Linked DNA regions of Homo sapiens. The protein of the gene in region 1 interacts with the protein of each later gene in a pairwise test. Each region holds a gene or a part of one and is shown on either strand. Other genes may lie near its edges.

Region 1 (3,750 bases):
GATCACCTGAGGTCAGGAATTTGAGACCAGCCTGGCCAACATGGCAAAACCCCATCTCTACTAAAAATACAAAAATTAGCCAGGTCTGGTGGCGCACACCTGTAATCCCAGCTACTCAGGCGGTTGAGGCATGAGAATTGCTTGAACCTGGGCGGTAGAGGTTACGGTGAGCTGAGATCATGCCACTACACTCCAGCCTGGGCAACAGAGTAAGACTCTGTCTCAAAAAAAAAAAAAAAGAAGGGGAGCAAGGGGAGGCAGGAGTTTGGGGGAGAGAGAGTTGAGGAGAACCTCTGGATCCATTCCAACCAGCTCTTGGGTGCAGTAGCAAGTTTGTACCAGGTGGCAGGTGGAGCAGGATGCTTTTCCCTAGACGCTCAAGGATGGATGGTGTTCTATACACCAGGCATAGGGTCCCTCTGGGTTTCCAGAGCCTACCTTTCAGAGGACAGCAGAGCTGGCAGGCAGTGGGATAGATCAGGGAGATAGATAGAATTGGATCAAATAGAACACCATAGAGGGTATAGAAACTGGGGAGATACTGGGAAAGTGAAGTGGGCTTCCCTGTGTTCCCTTTCTTTTACAATAAGAAGCTCCCACTTTACAGTTTAGCTTTTGCATTTTGGGGTCACACCACCATCTTACTCCCACTGGGTTGTCTGTTCCTTCTCTTACTCCCCAACATTATGGATTAGGTAGAAATGGGGTTGTCACCAGGGACTAAAGTCCATCCTCCTTACTCTTAGCCTGGTGGTCCTACCCAGAAAGATTTTTATCATAATCCCTAAGTACTCACAGAATGATACGGAGCTTCATGATTAGGAATACAGAGTGAGGACTATTCGGAGAGGGATGATGGAGAGAGGAATACATTTGGCCTTAGCTGCTGCCCCAGGGCTCTTAACTTCCTTAACGAGGGGGAACGATGAGAGGGGGCTTGCCTCAGGATCCCTTTTCTGAGGCTTATTTGACCACCTCACCTCTCCAGGTGTCAATAGGTGCAGTGAAAGGATGAGGAGGGATTAGTAAAACTTGGGGTATTGGTTAACCGGTAAGCAACCTATTTAGAAAGATTAGGGAGAACTCCCGAAGAGAGAGAGACACACAGAGATGAGACAGAATGAAGGGGAAAAAAAGGAGGGAGAGAGATTTAAGCATAGTGAGCTCAGTGCCCTAGGGACATGCATGACTCAAACAAATGTGTGAGAACAAAGAAGAGGGGGACGAGTTTCTGCTATTGTGTCACTTCATCCCTGGACCCCAAACTCCAGTCCTTTGGTACCGATGTCTAGGGGATCCCAGCCCCAGCAGTTCTGATACCTCCTCTCTTCTCTTCCACTGCTTCCCAAGCCCCTATTTCCCAAGCAGCCAAGAGTTCCAGTTAGAAGCAACTATGCTGGGGTTGGGATGTCTTCCTTCTCCCTCCAGGTCCAGCTGATCTCTACTGCCCCTGGGCACAGAGAAGAGAAAGGGCAAAGGAGCCAACAACCCAGAGGCAATCTCCCATCCAACCCCCGCACCTTGCAACACTTCTCAGAGGTTCAGATATCCAGTGTTTCCAATTCCTCAGCTTTCCCTAAACCTTCTCAGCTGCCTAGACAGGGCAGAGTAATGGAATGGAGTTGGGGAAAGGGTAGTCTATTGGTTCCCTCAGGGTAGCCCACCAGTTGAAGGATTCCTCCTGGCTACTCCCCAGCCCCTCAGCGGTGCCTTGCCTCTGGAGACCCCTCTCTGATCCCCATTCACAGCCTCCACCCCAAGGATCCCAGAGCACCCAAGAAACCACTTAGGTCTTCTCCTAGAGGAGTTCCCAAATATGTCAGATTCCTAAACCAGGGGCAATCTAGAAAGTCTGAGGTCTCCTAGGATACCGAAAGTTGGTTATTTTCCCCCCTCACCTCCTTCACCCCCCAGCCTGCCCCTCGGATCTCACTGGAATCCGCCCCCCCCACACACACCCTGCCTTTCAGGCACCTGTGGTGGAGTCACAGCAGGGTGAGGAGAGAGATGAGGCTCCCGGTGTTGTCTCTGGGGAGGCTGAGCCTGAGCTGACACTGCTGGACGAGGATCCCGGCTACCTTTGAGAATCTGCGAGGACCGCGCCCCGCCCCCGGGCCATTGCTGAGCGCTGAGTGTGGAAGCTCAGGCTGAGCTGAGCACAGGAGCCCCAAGCAGGCGCACCAGCGTCTGAAGCCCTCGGCCTGAGTTCTCAGTCCTTCCTCCAACCCTCCCCTTTCCCCGTGGCTCTCCTCTCCTCCTGCCCCTTTCGGCCAAGAGAGGAAACTTGAGCCCGATGTGGTTTCTGCCCACACCCCGCCCCCACCTTGCTCCTGGCCAGCGGGGGCACACATGGCTCCAAGCCTCTCCCAGCCCTCCTTTTCAGCCCAGGAGTCCAGCCAGGTCTGCGTTTCTCCCATGCATTTGACGAATTCCAACCTGATGGTCCACTCGAATGTGACCTTTAAACTTTATACAGGTTGTCGTCGCCTTGTGTCCCCACGGCTCTCCTAGGGACAGGGAAACTGAGTCATATCAAGGTGGAAGGCAGCTGAAGGTAAGGACCAGGTGTCTAGCTTCCCAGCTGTCTAGGCAGTTGGACGTTTAGGGTATAGCCTTCATTTACAGAAAACCTGGGCTCTGGGAACAAGGGCAGGGGAACTATTTGGAGGAGGAGGGGCAACTGACTGCTTTGATGTGTCCTTTCACCTGTAGCCTTCTCCCCTCCCCCCTCAGCCTCAGAAGTCCCAGGACAAAGGATTCTTTCTTGGCCAGGTTTTTGTCAGTGTGTGAAGGGAGTTAGGTGGGGGGCCACCCAGCAGGGAGATTATTCACCTCCCGTAAAGGGGACCCCAGGTGTCCTTTGTCCTCCTTTCTCCCAGGCAAAGCACCCCAGCCACATGGCACCCAACTCTGTTAGGCCAGTAAGTACCCTTATTCATCTTTTTTTTTTTTTTTTTCCAGAGAGGGGCTCACTCTGTCTCCCAGGCTGGAGTGCAGTGGTGTGAACATGTTTCACTACAGTCTCAAACTCCCAGGCTTAAGCAATCCTCCCACCTCAGCCTCCCAAGTAGCTGGTTCTATGGGTCAGTGCAACCATGCCCAGCTAATTTTTTTTTTTTTTTTTTTTTTTGGTAGAAGTGGTGTCTCACTATATTGCCTTGGCTGGTATTGAATTCTTGGGCTCAAGCAATCCTCCCCTCTTGGCCTCCCAAAGTGCTGGGATTACAGGCATGAGCCACCTCACCCAGCCCACTTATTCATCTTTTTGCCTGCAAGCTACACCACCAAAGCCCCAGGTCAAACATCTTTCTCCACAGACTGTGAGAAAAGAGCCTTTCTTCCTCCTAATTTGTAATGGCTTTCAGCTCTATATGTCTAGCTTCAATCCTGACATCTGCAGCTTACATTTTTTCTTCTTACAATGTTCAAGTTAAATTAGAAACATCTGAAGACTGGGGAAGCAGATAGGTGCCACTCTGGAGTAGGACTGGCATTCAACCAGCATGCTCTGATGGGATTGTATTTGCTGTTAAAATAATGAAAATGTTCAGTCCTAGTTGATAAAAGGCAGCTGCTGTGAGCCCTCTAAGTGTCCCCCACGACTCCACCAATAGCCTAGTTCTCCTCTAAGATCCCCAACAACCCAGCAACACAACCATGGAAGTAAAGAGGCAATGCTGGTACCATAAGGAGCCTCCTGTGCTGCCTGCTTCTGCTGGAATTGGCCAATGCCCATGCCAAACCTATGGT
Region 2 (3,650 bases), on another chromosome or scaffold:
CATGCCCAGCTAATTTTTGTAATTTTAGTGGAGACAGGGTTTTGCCATGTTGGCCAGGCTGGTAAGACGTGAGCCACCGCGCCTGGCCAAAAAAATTTGTTTTAGACATGGGGGTCTCACTATGTTGCCCAGGCTGGTCTTGAACTCCTGGACTTAAACAATCCTCCCACCTCAGCCTCCCAAAGTGTTGGGACTGCAGGCATGAGCCACTAAGCACGGCCTATTGTGTCTTTCAAAGATTTTAATACACTTTCACATCTCTTGCTAGATAAAATAGGGTCAGTTATTAGTACATAATTCCAAAAAAGGAAATGACAGAAAAAGAAGTAATATTCCCAAGGTGTAGGTCAAGAAGACCAAAAGGAATAAATGCATACCGCTCTATACCTGGACTTGTATACTATCATGATTTACATAGCTCAAGGCAGAGGAAATTGATCATATTGAACCAATATATCAGCAATGGGTTTTTCAAAAAACCAAGCTTTATTATTAATTTTTTTTGGCACCTTAATTAACAATTCATAGAATGGGTCACTTCAGGCCACTCAAGAGTACCAGTGAACACTCCCCCACAAACACACCCTGCCACAAGACATTTAGCACAGAGGAACAGATCCATGGCCACTGCCTCTGCAGTATCAAAGAGAATTAGTCTTTCCACAAAACAAATTTTAACAGCCAATCTCTGGATTTCTGTAGTGGCTTTAGTCAGGCATATTTATCATCATATTAGCAGTGTTCAGTTCCTGCCCAACATCTTTATTTAATCCCAATTCAATGCTTATGGATGCTCAGCTCATGTTTAATGTTGCAAGCCCCATCTTAGCCCATCTTAATTCAAACAGAAAAGAAACAAAACAAAACAAAAACAAAAAAGGTACCTGCCTGGTTCATGGATCCCTAGCCATCCAGGGACCAAATTCCAAATTAGGATGACAAAGAGTTTCCCTTAGTTCAAAATGACATGTGTTTCCAGTCCTAATCCCAGATGTTAATCTAGCCATAGTGTCACCTGAGCCTTAGTCCATGTGTATATCACATACTTCCTCTAGCTTTAGAATGACTTCACAAGCTGAGAAAGGCAAAACAACCATAACCCAGACTTGCATGTAAGTATCTGGCCTCAACTATTAAATAATACTTAAAAGGGAACCTTATGAGCCTTAGCTCTTTCTGGAAATTCATCTGAACAGGGGTGAGGGTGGGTAGGTGGGTGCAAATGGTGGGCTCCCTCCAGCTCAGAGTGCATTTGTTAAGGTATTGCCAACTTTCTGAAAGACACTAGAGACAAGGGAGGAGACCAAGTGCTAAAGACCTTTTATCACTTTTGCAAAAAACAAGAAAGGCCAACTCCATTTATTTTATCACGTGGATCTCTTAAGGAACTACCAAATCTACTAAGGGACCTCCAAGAATTTTGTGACCCATGAAAATCTCCTCTCCTAGTCACAAGGCATAAATACATAAAAATACATAATGGCAAATTTCTGAATCTGACATGACTTCTCCCAAATACAGCTGTCTTCAGTTCCTTTATTATTGCCTCTTTGCAGCAGCGGTGATGGTGGGTGATGGAGTGACATCAGGAGCGCCAGAAGGAGGAAGTCAGAAAGCCCTTGGGGACAGGAATGTCCTTGTGTTGCAAACATTTCTGGTCAGGGAAAGATGAAGAAAACAGAATGAGTTTCTGATAACAGTGTTCCCAACACTTAATGGTTAAAAGAAGCTTTGAGGAACACCATATTTCAGCCCTATGGAACAGTGAACAAAAAGGAAAAAGCCAGTAAGACTGATGGTTCTGTATAAGATGTCCACTTCTGCATGATCTGCTCCAGACAACAAATGAAATGCTCTTATTATTCCTGTCCCACTCTTGTCTCCCTACAGGCTAACCTCATCTTTCACAATCACTATTTTCACAATCGAGCTTTGAGAAGCTGAAAAGTCAGCAGGCTATCTTGGCAAACCCACTATAGTGTTCTAAATTCTTTGTCAAAATTAACCTTTTACAATCTCTTGGCACTTGGAAGTAGGGGAAGAGTCCAACTGAAAGTGCAGTTTGATCTCATGGAGAAAAGTGATGACACTTACCAATTCCCCAGACCTGAGACTAAGAAAATAACCTTGGCCAACATGCAAAAAAAATATATATTAATGAGAGGAGATACACTAAATATATTTTACTCATCTCAGCATAGCTTTCTCACAGGCAGTATAGAGAATGATACATATAAAGAAGAGGAAATGGCAGCCCTTACTCCAAAGGTTAAGAGGGAATTAGGAACAAAAAGAAGGGTTTGGAAGAACTAAGGAAGAGAGTGCAATCAGAGCATCGGAAGGTCCAAGACTTGTCAGACATAGGTGCATTCCAGCCCAACAACAGTGTGGGGCATGTTGGTCTAAGGGCATCTTACCTCCAAGAACTGCTTGAGGCGTATGAAGGAGCCCATCTGTCCTGAGCTTGTGATAGCTTCAATTCTACAGGGAGAGAAAGACACATGAATCACACCTATGATATACACCTATCTTTTGGAAACGGTGTCTCACTCTGTCACCTAGGCTGGAGTGCAGCGCGGTGGTGCGATCATAGCTCACCGAGGCCTTGAACTCTTGGGCTCAAGCGATCCTCCTGTCTCAGCTTCCCTAGTAGCTGGGACTATAGATGCATGCCATCATGCCTGGCTAATTTTTTTTTTGTAGAGATGGGGTCTTGCTATATTGCCCAGGCTGGTTTTGAACACCTGGGCTCAAGTGATCCTCCTCCTGTGGCCTCCCAAAGAGCTGCAATTATAGGCATAATTATAGGCATAAGCCACTGTGCTCAGCCCCTAATTTGTGTTTTTGTTTGGGCAATGATATTTAAGACAGACTCTCATTAAGGTTCAAAAGCATTTATTCAAATATCAACGAGAGGGACTGGAGTAGGAAAGATGTCATACTTAGTACAGGTGTTTTTAACTTGAATCAAAACCAGCAGGTAATAGCACCCTTGGGTATCTGAGGCCTGGTTATGAGTTACTTAATCCCCTGCTGTCTGCTCAACAAGCCTGATACCTGGGAAAGTAGTCCTCTTTGATGAGAATTAGCATCTTCCAGAACTGAACCTGGTATTGCTTCATGAGGGCATTCCCACACACCTAGAGGGAAAGACAGGCACTGTCAGAGCAGAAAATGAAAATTCACACTCACAGGACAGATTCATAAAGCACAATCAGCCCTTCATCTTTCACACCTATCAAAAATTTCAACCACAATGCCACTGAACTTGCTAACAAGGGAATAAATGGAAACACCCAACTTTCTTCTAAAGCATTTCTCTTTATATGGCAATATCTCCATTTAACCAATCAGGTCTTAATGAACTACTCTTCTTTTCCTCTAATGAATGGACGCCTTCCTAAAGGTATGGTATACCTCCCAAACTTAGTAAGGAGAGTATACAGAATACCACTTGTGTTCTCAAATGATACAGGATCATTGTTCATGTATGGTGACTTCAGGAGCTTTTTATTTTTTTTTGAAATAGGGTCTCACTCTGTCGCCCAGGCTAGAGGACACTGGCATGATCACAGCTCACTGTAGCCTCAACCTCCCTGGGCTCAGGTGATCCTCCAACCTCAGCCTCCTCAGTAACTGGGACCACAGGC
Region 3 (3,047 bases), on another chromosome or scaffold:
CTCCTGCCTCAGGCTCCTCAGTAGCTAGGATTACAGGCATGCACCACCACGCCCAGCTAATTTTGTATTTTTAGTAGAGACAGGGTTTCACCATATTGGCCAGGCTGGTCTTGAACCCCTGACCTCCACTGATCCACCTGCCTCAGCCTCCCAAAATGCTGGGATTACAGGCGTGAGCCACCTCACCCAGCTCTAGGTGGAAATTCTAACCCCAAGGTGATAGTTTTAGGAAGCAGGGCCTTGGAAGGCGATGAGGTCATGAGGGTGGGGCCACATGAATGGGATTAGTGCCTTTATGAAAGGGGCCCAAGATGGCCCAGAGCAGTGGCTCATGCCTGTAATCCCAAGCACCTTGGGAGGCCAAGCAGGTGGGAGGATCACTTGAGGCCAGGAGTTTGAGGCCAGCCTGGGCAACAAGGTGAAATTCCCCATGTCTACAAAAAAAAAAAAGGAGGGGCAAGAGAGCTTGCTAGTCCCTTTCACCCTGTGAGGACACAGTGAAAAGAGCCATCTGTGAAGCAGGCCCTCACCAGACACCGCTTCTGCCAGCACCTTGATCTATGAGAAATGAATCTGCGGTTTCTGAGCCACCCAATGTGTGGTATTTTGTTACAGCAGCTCAAATGGACTGAGACGAGCAGGGCCCTCAGGCCATGGTGGTTTATTGATGCACGTCGCAAGCACAGCACAGGCAGGCGGACCCCAGCCCCGGGGGGACATGAGGGCCAGGGGAGGGCAGTGGGCCACCCCCACAGCAATGCTGTCAGCACAGGGGGAAGGAAAGGGCCTGGGCCATGTTCTCTCCTTCTCCACACCTCTCCCCAAGCCTCCAGGCCTCCTGACTCATCCCAGAGAGACAGCTGGCCACACAACTGCCCCTGGCTACAGATAGGTGACCGTTGTCCACCTGTCCCTCACCGAGGTATGGCCTTGCCGGCCCGCTGCTGCTTCCGTCCTTCATCACGAAAATCCAGCTGCTCATCCATCATCTCTGTCACCTCTGAGAAAGTCACTGTGAGGCTGCACTCTCCTCTGCCTGATGTCACCTCCATCATCCCCCAAACAGCCGGCTGCTGCTGTCAGCCCCTCCCACAGGCTCTCTGTTTGCTTTGTTGATTGTAGGGAGTCCACCCTCGTGACCTGTGTGACAGTAGGAATGAGGCAAAAACACAAGGAGGCCCGGGAAGGACTTCACCAAGAACTCCCCGGGGAGGGGCTCCCGGCCAGCAGGGTGGCAGGAGAGCAGACAGAGCCAGTGGGGAGGGGAGAGGCGGAGCAGCAGAGGGTCCACAGTCCAGGTCACGCATGGGCACAGTACAGTCATGGCACCATGGCAGAGCGAGTGAGCAAAGTGCACAGCTGGGCGGGGTGCCGGGGCCCGCGGGACAGCTTACAGGTCTCACGTTCCATGCCAGGCCCCAGCAGAGCATGAGGCGGCCCACTCCCAGCTGAGGAAGGGGCACCTCTGGGTCTCAGGGGTCTCCTCCCCCTCCTCAACCCCAGTGGCTGCTGTCTCAGACCCCTGCACTCTAAGCAAGGAGAAGGTATGCTGGGGTATGGAAGGAAGGAACATCCGACAGCCTGACGCCCCCAGTGCCAAGAGAAGAAAGAGAGTTCCTTTCTAGAGAGCAGGGGGAGTGTCCCGGTGGGCAGGTGGAGAAGGAGGGACAGCTCTCCCATGCAGGAAGAGGGTTCTTTGGGGCAAGGAGCAGCCAGGGAGTCACGGTGGTGCAGGAGACTATTTATAGAAGGAAGGGATCCAGGCCTGGAGTGGGAAGCCCCAGAGACCCAGCTCAGCAGGGAGGGGGCATTCTGTGGTTGGCCCTGAGTGGGGTGAGTGGGACTAAGAAAGATCGCCCCACAGCTCTCTGCATCTCTTCTGGAGGCAGCCAAGCTACCCATGGGCTTTGGCCCAGAGGGGCTTCCCTGGGAGAGCCCAGGAGGTGGGCAGGTCTTTGGGAGATAGAGACCTGGACGAGGCAAAGAACAGTAGGACAAGGAAACCAGAGGAAAGGGGAAGTTCTCCAGAAGTCCAGCCCAGCTGCCAACTACAGAGGCTGAGAAGCCTTTCCATGTCCACCAGGCTGGGTGTGGGCCACACTTACCAAGAGGACCACCGTCTGTTGCCTCCAATGCCAAGGGGCGAGGGGAGGGCAGCTGGGCAGAGTGGAGGGAGCAGGGGGGCAGGAGAGAGAAAGCCAGCTCCCTGAACCTGGGCTACCCACCTCCACCTTCCGCTCATCTCTCCCTCGCCCCCCAGCTCCCCAGGAGTCCCTAGCGGCCCACGCTGATGTTGCAGGTCTTGCAGCTGGGGTCCTTCTTGGCATCGGCAGTAGACAGACTCATGAGCTGGTGCCCACTGATCTCCCCCAGGGTGCCCAGGGACAGGTCGACGGGCTCAGTGTAGATGATCTCCAGGATGAGGTCCTGGGCGTGGCGGAAGACCAGCTCCCCATCCTCCACGCTGCAGGTCAGGAACTTGTTGCAAGCAATGTCCAGGAGGGGCAGGCGGTCGCGGCAGAAGCGGTCCCCCAGGGAGCCTTTGGGCGCCAGCACCAGGATGGCGTAGTGGTAGGCCGTGTACATGCAGTAGAAGTCCGCAAAGTAGAGGTTGGTGCTGGGATTGAAGAGGCGCTGAGCTGGGATCTGGAAGCGCCAGCGGCCGTAGGGGGAGTCCTGCGGGGGCTGGCCCGTGTTGAACTCCGTGTTGCAGCTGAAGAAGACCCCGTGGAGCATACCGCTGGTGGGGGAGCCGTGGCTGCCACTGTTGTCCTTCAGGTAAGGCTGCAGCATGTTCCCGCAGTGGGTCCTGCCCACCCCAGGGAGACACACCAAAGGGAAGAGAAGATGTGGCTGGTGAGCCGGGCTGAGGCTTGGCTGCTGCGTGTGGTCGAGGAGGGAGGAAGCCAGCCCAGCTCCCAGCCCTCCCCCAGCCGCCTCCACTAGTCGCAAATAGAACATTCCAGAATGCAAGAGCAGGGAGGGCCCTGGAGAGGGATTCAACCAGCCCACTCCTTCTCAGAGAAGAGATATGAAGCTGTCACTCC

Evidence for each region.
Region 2: the proteins of NFE2 (region 1) and GLE1 interact in binary tests that used the Homo sapiens proteins (3 or more experiments, as listed by UniProt).
Region 3: the proteins of NFE2 (region 1) and PHYHIP interact in a two-hybrid assay, tested with the Homo sapiens proteins (one large-scale study listed by IntAct).

What each region holds. Positions count from the first base shown.
Region 1 is NC_000012.12:54,298,827-54,302,576, forward strand, and holds the start of NFE2 (transcription factor NF-E2 45 kDa subunit), read right to left. Parts: upstream 2,190-3,750; 5' UTR 1,975-2,189; intron 1,451-1,974; exon of another isoform or gene 1,321-1,450; intron 1-1,320. UniProt on the Homo sapiens protein: Component of the NF-E2 complex essential for regulating erythroid and megakaryocytic maturation and differentiation. Binds to the hypersensitive site 2 (HS2) of the beta-globin control region (LCR).
Region 2 is NC_000009.12:128,539,106-128,542,755, reverse strand, and holds the end of GLE1 (mRNA export factor GLE1), read right to left. Parts: intron 3,141-3,650; coding exon 3,058-3,140; coding exon of another isoform or gene 3,042-3,057; exon of another isoform or gene 2,879-3,041; intron 2,482-2,878; coding exon 2,418-2,481; intron 1,655-2,417; coding exon 1,586-1,654; 3' UTR 468-1,585; downstream 1-467. UniProt on the Homo sapiens protein: Required for the export of mRNAs containing poly(A) tails from the nucleus into the cytoplasm. May be involved in the terminal step of the mRNA transport through the nuclear pore complex (NPC).
Region 3 is NC_000008.11:22,219,079-22,222,125, forward strand, and holds the end of PHYHIP (phytanoyl-CoA hydroxylase-interacting protein), read right to left. Parts: intron 2,810-3,047; coding exon 2,275-2,809; 3' UTR 625-2,274; downstream 1-624. UniProt on the Homo sapiens protein: Its interaction with PHYH suggests a role in the development of the central system.